Regions from separate parts of the Homo sapiens genome. Here region 1 is linked to region 2. Evidence: fine-mapped expression QTL. Tissue or cell type: thyroid. Region 2 holds a variant in brackets; the other region holds the start of a gene. All regions are shown on one strand. Distances are from middle to middle.

Region 1 (5,368 bases), 41 kb after region 2:
TTTTAATCAGAAAAAGAATCTTTTTAATTTGTATAATTTATTAGAAGCTTCTTAGGAACTATATTTAAGCCAAATATCTACATAAGTTACAACAGAAAAAGACTGACGCCGCAAATACCAAACTGCCAAATAATATACACAGATTTGTCAATGCCCATAAAAAATGTGAAGGGCTGGGGACTGGGAGTGGTTTTTCTTTTTACAACAAAATGTACAGATTACTAAAAACTAGGCATTTAGTCCAACTTTTGACAGCGTTTTACAGCTACAAGTTCACATTAAACAAACTATTTTCGCGGAGGGCGGTCGCCGCTGAGCCTAGGCGGCCAGAGGGTGCCGGGGAGGGGGCACTTCCTTTGTGTCAGTGACAAGTGGGTTATGTTGAAGACTCTTTCCTCTCCCCAGCTCCCGTCCTCCCTTCAAAAAAAAAAAAAAATCCTGGTATTTACAAGCGAGTCCTCTTTGCTGGCAGAGTGTGCCCAGAGTGAAGTTTGGTCTTTAGAGTCCAGAGCCATGTCAGCACAGAGCCCTCTCCAATCTGTGCCCCGCCCTAGCGTGGAAAACCCATTTGAATCACCAAAAAAAGACACCCCAAAGCTGTTTTATGCCCTTCTCTGCTTAAAGATTCCTTGAGATTGGATGCGCTTGGTTGTTTTTCATTTTCTTTTTTTAAAAAAAAAAACCCACAAATTTTAGGGGGGGAAAAAAAGAAAGACGTCCAGCAGTTTGGCCTTTGTGGTTTTTTTGTTCCTTGGTCTAAACGCGGCCAGGTTGTTAAGAAAAGTCGAAGCGCGTGGAGCAGCGGTGGATGGTGGTCTGTGTGGCGGGCAGGAGGGAAGCGGTGAGGCAGAGCGCTGGGCTAGGGCCGGCCCGGCGTCCTCTCACCAGGTCCGACCGTATAGCAAGGTGGAGCAGGACATGGTGCCGTAGTCCGAGCCCGAGGAGTTCAGGTGGGACAGGCTGGATACCTGGCCCTGCAGCGCCGCGGGGCTGGCGGCGTGGTGCGCCAGGTCCGGAGACTGGCCTGCGCTGCCTGGCTGGTGGCCCGGGTGTGCGCCAAGGCCGGCGCCACCGCTGCCCACGGAGATGGCCGCTGCCGCCGCCTGCGCGGCCTGCGCCTGGTGCTGCGCCTGCTGCTGCGCGTGGCCTTGTAGGCTGGCGGCGCCCGGCGCGGGGGCACCCGCCTGGCACGGTTTGCCGTCTTTCACCAGGACCGGCACCGCCACGCGTCGCGGCGACTGCTGCTGAGCCTGTTGCTGCTGCGGGCACCCGGTGCCCCCGCCGCCCCCGCCGCCGCCGCTGTCCTGCTGCAGTTGCTGCTGCGCCGCCTTGTCCTTGGCCTGGCGCTTCATTTTGTAGCGGTGGTTCTGGAACCAGATCTTGACCTGCGTGGGCGTCAGGTGGATCATGCTGGCCAGGTGCTCGCGCTCCGGCGCCGACAGGTACTTCTGTTGCTTGAAGCGTCGCTCCAGCTCGTACACCTGCGCCTGCGAGAAGAGCACCCGGCGCTTCCTGCGCGGCGCGCTTGGCAGCGGGGCCATGTTCTTGCTCACGTCCCCCAGCGAGCCCAGGCCGCCCATGCCGCTCATGTTCATGCCGCTCGCCGGGCCCATGAAGCGGGAGACTGTAAGCGACAAACGCACAGCGTCGGCCGGGGCCAGGCCGAGCCAGGCCACCCCTGTTTTCCGCGCCATTGGCCCGCCCGGCCCGCCCCAACCGACGGCGCCCTCCTGACCCAGGCAGCCTAGCGCTGGGGCCCAAGAGGCCCATCCGCGGGGAACTGCCAGCGCCTGCCCCAGGCCGTACCGTCGAGGGGGCTGTACTGGAGCGCTCACAGCCCCAACCCTGGCTGCCCTCCCTCAGTCTCAGTTCCCTCTTTCGAACCAAAAGACGCAGTGGGGGAAAGGCCGCTTCTGCTCCTTTCGTGCCCAGCCCGGGTCAGAGCATTAGGATTAGCTGGCCACAGGCGGCGAACTGGGCTCAGGCCGGGAGCTGGGGTCCTACGGTAGACCCCAGTTTGGAGAGGTTAGGAGAGGGGGTGTTGACTTCCAAAAGCTGGAGCCCCCAGACGCTTTGCCTCTTGGCTTCTCTCCTGTCAGGCCCCAGTGAGGGCACCTGCTCGGACCCTTAGAGTCCCCTCTGGAACTGCGAGTCCTCCCACCTGCCCAGACTCCGCTGGAGAGAGGGCCGGGCCGGGCGCTCGAGTGCCTCCCAACAGGGCAGCCTCCCTCCTGGCCCGGTCTAGCCTCTCCGCGCTCTGCTCGCCCCTGCTCCTTGAGCTCGGGGTCGCTTCCCTTGGCTCCCCGAGGTCTTCTGCGCCGAGCAGAGCTGCCAGTCCACCGCGCCTAGGAGACGCCGAGTACCCGCATCTGACCGCAGGACCCCAGCGCTACCAAGTGCCTGTTCTTGGACCCCCAGCCGAGCAGGGGGAAGCATCCCCAGCTCCCGCACCCAAGTCCCTGGCGCCGCTGCCGGGCCGCCCTCCCTGATGCCCAGCGCGCAGCCTGCCGGCGCCGCGCCTTCTGGACGGCTCTCGCCGCACCTCCTGAGCTCAGCCCGCGGCCCCGCAGTGGGGCGGCCTCACTTACTGGCGGGGAAGCGCGGGTCTGGGTTGGCGCCGTACCATCCGGGGCCAGAGGCGCTGTTCCTCATGGTGTCCTGGTACGGCGGCAGCTCGCTCATGTTGCCCAGGTTGCCGTTGCAGTAGCCCCCCACGGCGGAGTGCGAGAGCTGGGGCACCCCCGCCGCCGTCATGTGGTAGGCGGCGGTGACGGCGCCGTGGTGCCCCACGGCGTGCTGCTGCATGGCCGCTGTTGGCGGTGCCGCCTGGCCCTGCCTGTACGCCGCCAGCGGAGCCCCGAGGCCGCCGCCCTCCATGCCCACTTTCTTGTAGCTTTCCTCCAGGGGACTCAAGATGTCAGACACTGAGAACGGAGTCGTGTGCTTTGGACTCATCGACATGATTCGGCGGCGGCTGGAGGAGGAAGGAAGAGGAGGAAAAAAAAGGGAGAGGGGGAAGGCGAAGCCTCGCTGCTTTTTTTTTCTCCCTTTGCCAAATATTCTGGTGTTACCTTAACGCCGATCTTGTTGGATGTACACGTAACGGAGTGGACCGAGTCCTCCTTAATTGGCTTGAGTGGAGGCTCGGGGGCTGCCTCGCGTTTGTTTTAGCCCGGCGCCAGGTTTTAGGCAGCCACCAGAGGCGGGGCGTAAGCGCTAAAGCAACAAGACAATAGAAGCCTACATCTTGCCCGAGATAATTAGCTTACATGCTGATGACAAGGTAAACACCTTTAAGTTTCACTTGTCAGGATTTTTAGGTCTCAAAGAGAGAGAGAGAGAGGCAGAGACGAGACCCAAAGCATTTCCCCCCTCCCTTGGACACCCCCACCCCCATTTTTTGTGGGGTACCAGCGGAGCGCGGGGAGGAGGTGGAGGGGAGGGGAAGGAGGAGGGAACCGAGAGCGGGGAGGGCAGGAGGTGGGGTGGGGGAGTAACAGAGGAGGAGAGATGGTTGAGAGGAAGGAAGGTGAATGCTGCTTTGCAACCAACTTGCGGAGTTACAAAGTGGAACCACTTTCCAATTCGGTCGGGGTTCCCCGGGCACGGACAGGTCTTTAGGAGGAGGGGGCTGAGGGACAGGGTGGGGGTTTCACCTGAGCCTGCCGGGGCTGCTCCTCCCTCCCGCCGCGGCCTCCCAGCCCCGCGCCTTCCCACTGCCTCCGGACCACATCGGGCTTCGCTGCGCTGAGCCCCAGTCGCCAACAAATGAGCGAGCGAGTCTGGGGACGAACCCTGGGGCCGCACTGTTGGTCTACGTGTCTGTCAGTCTGTCTGCCTCTCTTCTGCCGCCGTCAGAGGGACACCTCTGCTCCCCGCCCCCTTTCCCCCTACCGGAGAGAATCCGAGCGGGCGGAGGGGGCGCTGAGTAGGGGATCGACTGCCTCCCGGAGGCTGTCCCGGATCCCCGAGCCACAACCCGCCCCCGCAGCTCAGGGGTTTTTCAGTGGGCCACCCCCGCTAACACGCCTCCCCCAAGGTCTTCCCCCCCCCCCCCCACCCCCGGCCGAGCAAACACAGCACTGGCCCCCAGAGCTGGGAGGATGGGAAGGGGTCTCACGGGAGGGTCCGTCACTGAAGTTGCCCCACCTCGAACAAACCTGGTGTCCCTGACCCTCGCCCATCTCCCAGACACGCGGGGATCTGGGGCTGGAGCTGACTTTCCGAGGACATCACAGCCCCAGCACCCGAGCCCAGAGCCACGCTGTTTTCCCCTCTGATGCTTCAGGGAGCGCGCGAGCAGGGAGCGGCGTGAGTGCCCGTCTGTCTGTTGCCGGGCGGAACTGAGCCTGAACCCCGGCGGCTGGAGCGCTGGCCAGGAGGGGGCGAATGCCGAGGTGCGGGCAGCTCAGCGGGCGGGAGGCTGGGCCGAGGCTCGCCTCCGCCCGCAGCTCAGCCATGCAAAAGTGCTCTTGCTTCCCGGGAATAACCAAATATCTTTGTTTAAAGTGGTGGCGTAAATGGCCAGTCGCTTTGTGGCCACGCTGGATATTAGTAGATGAGGATCATTCTGCTTCAATTGGGCGCCTCTCATCCGACGAGCAAGAAACTGCTTAGGAGGAAGAGGGTTTCCTGTCTGCGCGTTCCCAGGCTTCAAGTGTGGGCCCCGCGCCTTGAGGGTCCTTGGGCGCCTGGCGAGGGGGAGCTGTGGGCTGCGCTCCCCAGCGGAATCGGGGGTGTCCCCCGCGTTGCTCCGGCCAGGCCGGGGCCTGCAGCCGAGTCGACTACCGAGTGGAGCACTGAACGGCGCGGATTTTGAGACCGACTCCGGTTTTTGTCCTTGGATTTTAAACGTTTTTATCATTGTTTTTGTTTTGCTTTCTCCTTAGCTGTTTTAGTCTCCTCTGCGCGCCAGGGGCTGGGAGGGCGGAGCGCTCCCCGGCCGGCCCCGGCAGGTGCCTCCAAGACACCCGCGCTGGTCAAGGAGCTTCTTGAATTTAGTTTTTGTTTTCACATTTTCTTTCCCCTCCTTGTAGAGAAGGAGCTCCTGATCATGACGAACAGGCAGTTTTGAGCTACTTAATTCATCCGGGCTCCCTTTTTTTATTAATAGCAATTACAGTAGAGAAAGTTTTATTTATTTTTAAAGATTTCAGCCCTCTCCTTGAAGAGAGCTCTTACTCCCTCAATACAAAGCCAACTTCTATAATAACATTCGCTTTTCTCACCGCCTACCTTCTTTACCAGGGTAAAGAAAGCTCAGGACACCCTCCGCCCTCCCACCTGCGCCCGCGTTTTTGTGCGGTCCCCACGGCAGAGCTGGGGAGGCCACCCTACGTTTGCGCAGGGAGACGCGCTCGCCGCTGGT
Region 2 (5,368 bases):
TAGTTGTAAATACAGGATAAATAGGTAGGTAGTAGACTCTAAGGTAACTGCTCAATTGAAGTCATAATGCAAGCATCTAACCTTTGTGAAAATAATGTGTTGAATAATTATAGGGCCTGGGCTGTAAGGCCCAGAGAATGTCAGAGTAAAATCTCAGGGATGGTGGGAAATAGAGACCTAAAAGAATATATAGGGCTTTTAGTCTCACTTTAAAGTGATAATTTTCTTACAATTGGAGCAAATGGAGAAATTAGAAATGAAATAAAATGGTCAAATATAATTACATAAATTTTTAACTTGTAAGTAATAGAAATAACTAGCAATAAAAACCAAAAAAATCAACACACATGAAAAATAGAATTATCAGCACCAAGTATATGAAAATTTATTCAAACATGCATGTGAACACTAATAATATTCCCAATGGATAAATGGGCAAAGGACATGATTATATGATTCATGCACAGGAAATATGAATAGTAAAATAAATTTGAAAAACAGTTTAAATTTAATATGAATAAGGGAAAAGCCTCGCAAAGAAAAAAAATTTAAGTACCAATTTAATCCATCTTTTTTTTTTTTTTTTTTTTTTTTTTTTTTTTTATTGAGACAGAGTCTTGGTCTGTTACCCAGGCTAGAGTGCAGTGACGCGATCTCGACTCATTGCAAGCTCCACCTCCCGGGTTCATGCCATTCTCCTGCCTCAGCTTCCTGAGTAGCTGGGACTACAGGCACCCGCCACCATGCCTGGCTAATTTTTTTTTTTTTTTTTTTTTTTTTTGGATTTTTAGTAGAGACAGGGTTTCACTGTGTTAGCCAGGATGGTCTCGATCTCCTGATATCGTGATCCGCCCACCTCAGCCTCCCAAAGTGCTGGGATTACAGGCGTGAGCCACCGCACCTGGCCAACCCAATCAATCTTATTTTACCAGCTGATTACTTTAAGATGAGAGAGTAAACAGTAAATTAATTGCATTAGTATTATTAACCAAAACACCTGGTATAACTTATAACTCACCCTGGGTGGGTGGATATTCGATAATAATTAACTGTCAGTAGTGAGTGGTAGGAGAGCTAGTATGGGTAACTGCAGTCGCCAAATCATCAAAACACTTATTTGCAGACCGTAAGACCACATTAACGTGAGGCAGCTAACGTGGGGGGAAAAGGTATTTAGAATTCTTTCAATTTTACTTATACCACTTTGGTAACTGGACTGCAGTAAAACAGATAGAGATCAGACCCCAGAAGAACAGGAAAACTAGGCAAACAGGCTGGATACTCCACAGGAAGAGAATCTGCCCAAGAACAAAGTCAGCGTCCCTACTTTAACGAATATTCTCATGACAACACCTTGGCCTCGGATGAACTCCTGCTTTGTGACAGCGTCGTGGGATGCAGCAGGGCTGTATGGACTGTTCCTGGACTTGGCACGCAAACAGCGACACAGGTGGGTATCCGCTTTTCCCTCTCCCTCAGGCCTGTTCTGGGTAGACAGGGAAAATCAGTTTTGATGCCATTGATGATATGCCCAATATGTTTGTGCACGTGTGTCCTCAGGTCTCTTTAGGAGTAAGCTATGGCATGTCTCTCATCATGGCCAGGGATGGAAGGGCCAACAATTAAATGAATAATAGTAAGCACTCACTAAGTATTTGTTGTGGTTATTAATGTTGCTTTTACCTTCAGTGGGAAGAAGGCAAATAAAGATGAGTTTTTTCCTGGAATCTAGATGGGCTCTCTTGTGGTGTCAGAGAGGGCGGGCGCCCATGGGACAGCTGCAGCAGAGGGCGGGCAGACGAGGCCCACAGGGGAGCCCAGCACCTGAAGATGATGATAGGCAGCAGCAGGTGGTGTCTGGGAGGTCTGACAGCCACAGTCAGGGCCTGTGGTTTTCAAACACAACTCCAGGCTGACTCACTGAGGGAGATCCAGTAAGCTCTTCAAACCAGTGCCACCTACCACCCCCACAGATTAAGGGCAGGATTCGTCGGGGACCTGAGGCAAGGCTAGGGGACAGAAGGTGTTATGGCAAACAGGAGTCAAGAGGGAAATGGGGGAGGAAGTTGGAGAGCCAAGCAAGTGGTGGTCACAGTACCTTTCTGAGAGCAGTCATTGGTTATTATGCTCTGGAGGAGAGGAGGAAATA[C/T]GTAACAGAGACCTTCAGAGGGAACGAGCAGATCGCACATTTGTTCTTTCCATATGTCCAGGTGAAGACTGGATGTCAAGCTGGTCCCCACTCGTCTCCTCCCCTCCTCCATCTATAAAATAAATGTACTTTGGTCCTAATATTTTAAGCGCAATTACCCTAAACTCATTTGGAGGTCCATCCATGGGGTACTTTTAATAGTTCTTGTCTGCATTTGGTGAGTCTTCACATCAGTATATCTTCCTTGGAATGTAAATTTTTGGAAGGAAGGAATCAGAGCTATGTGGTTCTTTGAACAGTGTGTAACACTGTAAACAATTAGATGACTTATATTTTTAAGATGAAGATGATGCTACTTATAAAATGAATGAGATTTGTGAAGCCATTCTTTTTTGTCGTAATATGAATGGGACTTGAAAAGTTAGTATTCTGCTGGTGAGAAAACAGCAGTGTCACTTCTAGTTCTTAATGTGAAACTAGCTTTTGTATTCCTCTTAAAATGCTTACCATTGTAATCCCACTTCTAGAAACCTTAGGTAGGGAAATAATAAACAATGTGAACAAAGATATATGTGTAAACACATGAGCACCTAGATGCTTAATTATAGGAAAATGGCCAGATGAAGCTTAGTACAGCTGTAAGATAAAATATCTAGCAGTTATCAAAATTATAGTTAATAATTTTAACAGGAAAATAATTATGTTAAAATAGCAAGTGAAAAAAAAACATGCAGTATTTTTTTCAATTATATTTTTCCAAAGTATAGAAATAATTGGAAAGAAACGTATCGAAATGCTAAAAAAAAAAAAGAGGGCATGAGGAGGAGGGCCTGTATGGCAGAAAAATGGCTAAGAGGTGAGCAATGAGGAAATGAAATGTGTCAAGCAGAACTAAGGAAAGGAAAATTCAGTTTTTTGAATACTCTGTGCAAGCAATGAAATAAGCATTTAATAATTCTTGTTAATAATTAAAGATAAACATTGGAGTAAGGCTACAAGGAGAAAAGAGCCTCTTTCCACAATGAACAGAAACCTCCCATCTTGGCTTAGTTGAAAGAATGGAAAGCTAAGATACTTTGAAGTCTGAATGAGTACATGAGATGACTCAGGTGTGGTTAGGAGCCCATCACCTCTGCTGAGCAGCTAAACATGACAGTGAAACTGTGAGTACACATTTGAGAAATGGGATTTGCTGAGGCCATATATGGGAAGAGGGGATAGGCAAGCCATTAAACCAGTCTGCTAGTTTCTAAACCTAGATGCCCATCCAGAATTACATGAGTAACTATCTAAAACCACAGGTATGCAGCCAAAAAGGCACAGGCCAAAGTAATTATATCAGGGCACAGATGAAACAAAATACGGGATGGGCAGTGCATAGAGAATGAAAGGAACTAACAATGGCACAGTCACCACTCACTGCAGCCTCAACCTCCTGGGCTCAAGTGATTCCCATGTCTCAGCCTTCCAAGTAGCTGTGACTACAGGCGTGAACCACCGTGCCAGCTAATTTTAGTATTTTTTGCAGAGACAGGGTTTTGCCATGTTGCCCAGGCTGGTCTTGAACTCCTGAGCACAAGCAATCCTCCCACCTCGGCCTCCCAAAGTGTTGGGATTACAGACGTGGGCCACCGTGCCTGGCAGAGCATAATGCTTTACATGGGCTTACTCACTTATCCCCTCACAACAGCGTTCTATACTAAGTGTGGGTTTCTGCATTTAACCCCCTCATTATTTCCTCCCTTACATTTGCAGTCTTTACCTTTCTACTGACTCATCTTAGTAATGCTTAAATATGTTCTTCATCCCCTACTTCTCTTTCAGCTACTCTGGAAATTACCCTACTCTGTCCTCCCCTTCAAAGCCCAAATTCTCTAAATGATTAAGTACCCATGGTCATTTCCTCATGCCCACAGGCTCCTCAACCCATTACCATTGGGCTCATGTGCCTACCTGCTTTCTAAAGCTGCCTTCACCAATGTTACCAGGAGCCTCCTCATTGATAAAACTCATTGGATACTTTCCATTCCTTACATTATATGACTTTTTGGCCACTTTAACCTCTGAGATCCAGTTTTAGAGTTACATGTCTAGCTACTTAATGGACATCCCACAGCTTCATTAGACCTCAAATTCAATATATTCTAAGTTTACCTCATCTTCTTTCCAAAGCTACTCTTGTTCCATGTTCTCTATTTCAGCAAATGACACCATCACCAAAGCTGGTCTTCCTTCTTTCCTTCACCCCCAAATACACTTGGCCACTAAACCCCTGTACAGTCTACCCCCTACCTGCCTCTCAGAGCTGAGGTGTACTCTTCTCCATCCCTATAGTACTAGGCTCATATCACCACTCCCTTGGTAGCCCCATCACTGGACTTCCTACCCTTCACCCCTCCACTGACCTACCACCATCTCTATTCTGGTCCCTGGAATGCAGTCCAGGGGATCTTTCTAAAACACAAGTCTGATTATGTCAGTCCTCTACTTAAAAATTTTCCGTGGCTTTCCACTGTCCCTAAAATAAAGTCTAAACTTCTTAACATGGTTAACATGATTCTCTCCAAGTTTCATCTTCAACACATCCCCTTCTGCACGCCACACTCCAGCAATACTTCTTGCTGTTCCTCCAATGTAGGTGCTGTCTTCTCTCTCTGGTTGTTTCCAGTGCTTGAAACAGATCTTCTGACTTTTCTTCTGGCTAAGTCCTTCCACATCTTTAGATCTCAACTTATGTCACCTCCCCTGGAAAGACATTCCTCAACCCCCAGTCCGGGTTAAGTATCCTTCTTCTGGGCATCCACTGTATTACAAATGCTCTTAAAGTGGCCTCTATTTAACCAGCTTACTTGATACACATAATTTCCTTTGTAAAGCACACTGACTACAGCCCTGCCCTCCCCAATGCTCAAAGCTGATAAGCTGCTGTCTATACACTCATCTTACTACTGCTCTCACCAGTTGAATTGCATTGTATGCCTACCAAGTGTCAGATGTGTTTGGTCTAAGTTCTTTTATAACAATTTTACTTATTGTTATAGCTATGTTATTTGAGGAAATCTTATGTAAATTAATAAAATATAAGTACAGAAAGTTGTTTTTATAATGTACAAAGACATAAATGTAAGCTTCTAAAAGTTGCTTTAATGGATATAAAGTTGTAAATGGAAAGAAATCATTAAAAATCTAAACAGATTCTACTCTGACATAGATTTGTCA

Alleles and levels. Alleles are on the strand shown, and positions count from the first base shown. SD is a standard deviation of normalised expression in the study named.
For the expression in thyroid of the gene that starts at base 3,160 in region 1, allele C in region 2 goes with a lower level than allele T (moderate effect, 0.51 SD a copy in GTEx).

Evidence for each region. PIP is the estimated chance that this variant, and not a neighbour inherited with it, causes the effect.
Region 1: SFTA3 starts here. The variant in region 2 is fine-mapped to the expression of SFTA3 in thyroid (GTEx, PIP above 0.99).

What each region holds. Positions count from the first base shown.
Region 1 is chr14:36,516,397-36,521,764 of GRCh38, forward strand. SFTA3 (surfactant associated 3) reads right to left here and starts at 3,160. Exons shown (of 5, transcript NR_161365.1): 1 at 3,072-3,160. NKX2-1 (NK2 homeobox 1) reads right to left here and starts at 3,836. Exons shown (of 3, transcript NM_001079668.3): 1 at 3,657-3,836; 2 at 2,589-2,974; 3 at 1-1,624. The coding sequence starts at 3,733. The coding sequence ends at 882. NKX2-1-AS1 (NKX2-1 antisense RNA 1) reads left to right here and starts at 2,882. Exons shown (of 2, transcript NR_103710.1): 1 at 2,882-3,283; 2 at 5,248-5,368. RefSeq lists enhancers at 1,095-2,093, 3,252-4,251, 4,252-5,251, 5,252-5,368.
Region 2 is chr14:36,475,618-36,480,985 of GRCh38, forward strand. SFTA3 (surfactant associated 3) reads right to left here. Exons shown (of 5, transcript NR_161365.1): 3 at 2,099-2,261; 4 at 1,354-1,486. Among named protein-coding and RNA genes, the nearest start is that of NKX2-1-AS1, 41 kb to the right of the region's middle. The variant C/T (reference allele first, on the strand shown) is at 2,150.